Regions from separate parts of the Homo sapiens genome. Here region 1 is linked to region 2. The links come from fine-mapping of genetic effects on gene expression. A gene starts in region 2. The other region holds a variant in brackets. All regions are shown on one strand. Distances are from middle to middle. Region 1 overlaps DFFA (DNA fragmentation factor subunit alpha). Region 2 holds the start of CENPS (centromere protein S).

The links. PIP is the estimated chance that this variant, and not a neighbour inherited with it, causes the effect. A credible set is the group of variants that fine-mapping cannot tell apart.
Region 1: its variant is the best candidate, but not a certain one, in a credible set for the expression of CENPS in nucleus accumbens (GTEx, PIP 0.62).

The regions. Positions count from the first base shown.
Region 1 is chr1:10,464,379-10,467,284 of GRCh38, forward strand. It overlaps DFFA (DNA fragmentation factor subunit alpha), which reads right to left. Exons shown (of 6, transcript NM_004401.3): 3 at 2,812-2,906. Among named protein-coding and RNA genes, the nearest start is that of DFFA, 6.7 kb to the right of the region's middle. The variant T/C (reference allele first, on the strand shown) is at 1,425.
Region 2 is chr1:10,428,661-10,431,553 of GRCh38, forward strand. CENPS (centromere protein S) reads left to right here and starts at 1,773. Exons shown (of 5, transcript NM_199294.3): 1 at 1,773-1,908. The coding sequence starts at 1,858. It overlaps CENPS-CORT (CENPS-CORT readthrough), which reads left to right and starts at 1,773. Exons shown (of 4, transcript NM_199006.3): 1 at 1,773-1,908. The coding sequence starts at 1,858. RefSeq lists a silencer at 1,871-2,120 and an enhancer at 2,371-2,420.

The DNA.
Region 1 (2,906 bases), 36 kb after region 2:
ACCGTGCCCGGCCAATTTTTCTAATTTTCTTTTAGTGTTAAAATTGGGAAGAAGGGTCGGGTGTAGTGGCTTACACCTATAATCCCAGCACTCTGGGAGGCTGAGGTAGGAGGACTGCTTGAGCTCAGGAGTTTAAGACCAGCCTGGGCAACATGGTGAAACCCTGTCTTTACCAAAAATATAAAAATTCACCAGGCATGGTGGAGTACGCCTGTGGTCCCAGCTACTTGGAAGGCTGAGGTGGGAGGATCGCTTGAGCCCAGCAGGCAGATGGTGCAGTGAGCTGAGATTGCACTACTGCACTCCAGCCTGGGTGACAGAGCTAGACCCTGTCTCAAACCAAACCAAACCAAAACAAAAAACACCAAGAAATCATTTCCTCAAAGAGGCCTTCCTCCGTGTTCCAGTCTAGAGTAGCCTCCATCACTCTCTGCATACCACTGTCTGATATGCTTTCCTGTTGCTTTCTGCCTCCCTTCATCAGAATACAAGTACCGTTAGAGCAGAGACTGTGTCTGGCTTGTTCGCCACTGCACACCCAGTGCATAGAACCATGACAGGCACAGGATGGGGCTCAATAAATATGTTTTGGGTCAAGCACAGAGGCTCATATCAATAATCCCAGCACTTTGGGAGGCCAGGGTGGGAGGACTGCCTGAGCCCAGGAGTTCAAGACCAGCCTAGGCAACCTGTGAAGACCTCCTCTCTATAAAACATTAATTAATTATTTTTTTTGAGACTGAGTCTTGCTCTGTCACCAGGTTGGAGTGCAATGACGTGATCTCGGCTCACCGCAACCTCCGCCTCCTGGGTTCAAGCTATTCTCCTGCCTCAGCATCCTGAGTAGCTGGGACTACAGGCACACGCCATCACGCCCAGCTAATTTTTGTAATTTTTTTGTTTTTTGAGACAGAGTCTTGCTCTGTCTCCCAGGCTAAAATGCAGTGGCGTGATCTCTGCTCACTGCTACCTCCCCCTCCCAGGTCAAGTGATTCTCCTGCCTCAGCCTCCTGAGTAGCTGGGATTACAGGTGCTTGCCGCCACGCCTGGCTAATTTTTATATTTTTAGTAGAGACGGGATTTCACCATCTTGGCCAAGCTGGTCTTGAACTCTTGACCTTGTGATCCACCCTCCTCAGCCTCCCAAAGTGCTGGGATTACAGGCGTTAAGCCACCGTGCCCGGCTGTATTTTTAGTAAAGACGGGGTTTCACCATGTTTGCCAGGATGGTCTTGATCTCTTGACATCGTGATCTGCCCGCCCCGGCCTCCCAAAGTTCTAGGATTATAGGTGTGAGCCACCACGCCTGGCTTTATTTATTTATTTATTTATTTTTGAGACAGGGTCTTGCTTTGTTGCCCAGGTTGGTGTGGTATAGTCATGGCTCACTGAAGCCTTGACCACCTGGGCTCAAGTGATCCTTC[T/C]GCCTCAGTTTCCTGAGTAGCTGGAACTACAGGCACACGCCACCACACCTAGCTAATTTTTGTAGAGATAGGGTTTTACCACATCAAACTCCTGAACTCAGGCAATCTGCTCACCTTGGCCTCCCAAAATGCTAGGATTACAGGTATAAGCCACTGCACCTGGCCTACAAAAATTAAAAAAAAAAAAAAAGAAAAAATAGCGCAGTGTGGTGGTGCAAGCCTACAGTCTCAGCTACCTGAGAGGTTGAGGTGGGAGGATGGCTTGAGCCCAGGAAGTCGAGGATGCAGTGAGCTATGATCATGCCACTGCACTGGGTGACAAAGCAAGACCCTGTCTCAAAGAGAAATTTTCTTTGAATGAAAACATACTGTTTTTATCCCAATCTTTTTTTTCTTTTTGAGATGGAGTCTCTCTCTGTCACCCAGGCTGGAGTGCAGTGGTGCGATCTCGGCTCACTGCAAGCTCCACCTCCTGGGTTCAGGCGATTCTTCTGCCTCAGCATCCCGAGTAGCTGGGACTACAGGTACAGGTGCACACCACCAGGCCCGGCTAATTTTTTGTATTTTTAGTAGAGATGGGGTTTTACCATGTTAGCCAGGATGGTCTCGATCTCCTGACCTCGTGATCTGCCCGCCTCGGCCTCCCAAAGTGCTGAGATTACAGGCGTGAGCCACTGCACCTGGCCTATCCCAATCTTACTAGAGAGAAAACACAAGGAGAGAAGCTAAGCTACTGGCTCAAAGTCGTGGTGACAGCGCTGGGATGTGAAGCCATCTACTCCAACGCTACATTCTCTAGCAGGGCATCCCTGACCCCAGCGTCCACCTAACTAGGTTTAGGGTGGATCCCAGGCATTTGTATTAAAAAAAAAATCTGGCCGGGCACGGTGGCTCACGCCTATAATCTCAGCACTTTGGGAGGCTGAGGCAGGTGGATCACTTGAACTCAGGAGCAGCCTGGCCAACATGATGAAACGCTGTCTCTACTAAAAATACCAAAATTAGCCAGGCGTGTTGGTGTGCACCTGTAATTCCAGCTACCTGGGACGCTGAGACAGGAGAATTGCTTGAACCCGGGAGGTGGAGACTGCAGTGAGCTGAGATTGCACCACTGCACTCCAGCCTGGGCGACAGAGTAAGACTGTGTCTCAAAAAAAAAAAAAAAAAAAAAAAAAAATCCACAGGTAATTCTGCTTCGTGACGAGGGTTGAAAAATTACTCTAGGTGAGAATGAGAAGATGAAAAATCTTAGTTGTAATTTAAGAATTATTTAAAAATTAAGATTAAAACAAAGAAATTGCTATGGCAAGTATGGAAGCTAAGAAGGTGCTGGGGCGGGGGGCAGAGGCTGGATGAACATTGTTGCAGGTTGTGGAGGAGGCTTTACCTGGAGGTCCTCCTCTGATAGGAGGATGATGCTGGACAGATCTTCTTTCAGCTGCCTGGCCACATTCTTCCACTTCAACCCTGCCCCGCTGTCTG
Region 2 (2,893 bases):
CCACCATGTCTGGCTAATTTTTGTATTTTTTGGTAGAGACAGGGTTTCATCATGTTGGCCAGGCTGGTCTTGAACTCCTCACCTCAAGTGATCTACCTGCCTCGGCCTCCCAAAGTGCAGGAATTACAGGTATGAGCCACTGCTCCTAGCCTCTGAGGCTCTTAAGTGCCTCTGTATTGCACACATGTCACTGGAATACTGTTCTTTAATCCTGGGAAGCAACTGCTTTAAAATGAGGGAACACACAGGTACAAAGCACAGGAACTTCCTGGGACGAATTGTTACAATTTCTTTAGCTCTTATGTGAGGCAATTGTTTAAAACCTGACACCTGCCCTGTGAAGTTGGAACTACTGTCCCCAGTTGATAAATAAGGGACATGAAGCTTGGCCACGTCCTGTGACTTGCTTGGGGTCACCAGGCTCAAGGGAGGGAGCTGGGCTTTGCAGCCACAGTGTGCTCTAAATGGGGCTGCTCACCAACCAGCGACCGGCCTTCTCTCCTGCTGCAGGCTTGGTCTCACTCTGGATGGCCTGCCCTGCCCAGCCCCATGCTGCCCATTAGGGGAATCCGTCAGAGGCTTGCCCTGCTTGGGCAGGAGGACTGTCCAGGTAGACTGGGATGCCCACAGAGAGCAGTGGACAGAGGCGAGAAGTGCCTGTCATTTCCAGATGCCACCCACTGAGCAGATGCAGAGGAAAGTCCTCAGAAGGCTGATTCCTCCAAAAAGCTTTGATCTGGGTTTCAGCCCCTGGCAAGCTTAGGGAACTTGAGGGACGTCCCTGGGAAAGGAAGACAAGGAGTGGCTTTATGTGCTTTCCTTCGTTCTGAAAGTAGCACCTGCTTGTGACAAATGCAGAATACAGAAATATAGGCAATAAAAAATAATAAAACAAAAACCTAGAAATACAGGCAGGGCATGGTGGCTCACACCTGTAATTCCAGCACTTTGGGAGGCTGAGGTGGGATGATTGTTTGAAGCCAGGAGTTTGATACCAGCCTGGGCAACATAGTGAGACCTGGTCTCTACAAAAAATAAAAATTAGCCAGGTGCGCTGATGCAGGCTTGTGGTCCCAGCTACTTGGGAGGCTGAAGTGGGAGGATCACCTGAGCCCAGGAGGTGGAGGTTACAGTGAGTCTTGGTGGTGCCACTGCACTCCAGCCTGGGCGGCAGAGTGAGACCCTGCCTCTCAAAAAACTACAATAAAAACAAACCAAAATTGGGTTTGATGGTCTCACTTCATCGTTAACATAAAGGAAAAACAGTAACACTTGTGTCAGAACTATACTCCTGCCAATGGCAACAACGCAGTTCCTGTTCCACTCGCTGAATGAGGTCACGGGTCGTTCACTCATTGTAGTCTTTGTGACGCTATTGTTGGTGATAGAATGATAAAGTTGATGGTCGATTTTGCAAGATACACCTGAGGTACAGGTGCATGGAGCTCCTGATAATGTGTACTGCGTTACATGATCTGTAAATCGTGGGCTACGCATCCTCTACACCCGACTGGAACACGCTTTGCACCTATGCGCACACGTGTTTCGCGGAGAGTGGTGCTCAGCGTTGTGCCAGGCGCTGAATCAGGCTCTGGGGTGCAGCAGTGACCTCGGTGGTCATGTCCCCGCGTCGCCCGGCCACCTCCGCAGAGCAAGCTGAGCAGGGGGCTGGCTGGAGGCCGACGGCGGAATCCCCTCAACGGAGCGCCGCCAGGGGGCGCGCGAGGCAGGGCGGAGCTGCGTACTTTGTCCGCCCGCGCGGCCCGTCGCTCGCGCCGCGGCGGGAAAATCCGACCTGGCCGCGCACCACCGCCCCTTCTCGGCCCTCCTGCGTTTGCCCAGGGTCGGCCCGCAGTGATGGAGGAGGAGGCGGAGACCGAGGAGCAGCAGCGATTCTCTTACCAACAGGTACAGGAAAACGGGGGTCGGGCTGGGCTGGGGCAGGACGGCGTCGAGTTTCTGGACAGAAAAGTACCCGGCAGCCCCCGGCGGCTTCTCATCGGCACCCCGCCCCCGGGCGCCCCCCGCGGCTGCGCATGCGTTGGCTTAACTGCCGCGGGTGGTGCTGGGAGGCGGTTTCCGCGGCAACGCGGCTGGACCCTGGCCTGCGCTGGCTGGGGAGGAAGCGGTTCTAGGGGAGCGTGCGGGCGCCGGGGTCCGGCGGCGAGAGGCCACCTTCTGGCCTTGCGATGAATCCTCGGTTTCCCCTTCTCAGATGGGGTTTTCGTGAGGGTACAACGTCGGCATTAGACATTCCAGGTGACGCCCGTACGCGGTGGGCGGTTCGGGCCGGAGCTCTGGAACGCTGGCCCTGGAGGCGTCGACCCCTCGTTACTGATGCAGGGACGCGGTGCGGACCAGTCAGGCCCAGAGCTCGTCCTTAGATGTGGGTTCGAATCTCTGCCCCGCCAACTTGTGATCGTATCGACTCGGCCCAGACGCAATTTTCTTCTCTGCAAAATCGTCATAAGAATAATCACTTGTCAGGGTAGCTGCGGGCATCCCATTCGTTCCTTTCATCAGCGCCGGGCATATGGGGCGTCAGAGGCTGAGAACGTTGCCGTGAAGAGGCTTAAAAGCAAGACCCGGAGTGGCGACCTTAAAGAGGACGGACTGAAGAAACGCGGGAATGAGCTCCAGACGCGGGAGTTTCCTCTCTACAAAGTTACACTGCAGCAGCTGTCTACCCTGCCCCTTGTCTTTTGAGAAGTTCAAACCTTCAGAAAAGTTGCAAGAACACGGTACAGAATGCCCAGATGCCCGTCACCTTGATTCACCACTAGTTAGCATTTTGCTCTGTTTGCTCCCATGCTTCCCTCCCAGCCCCGCGATTGGAGAATTAATTGCAGATATTTTGACACTTCGCCTTTACATTTTAATTCTTTAGTACACA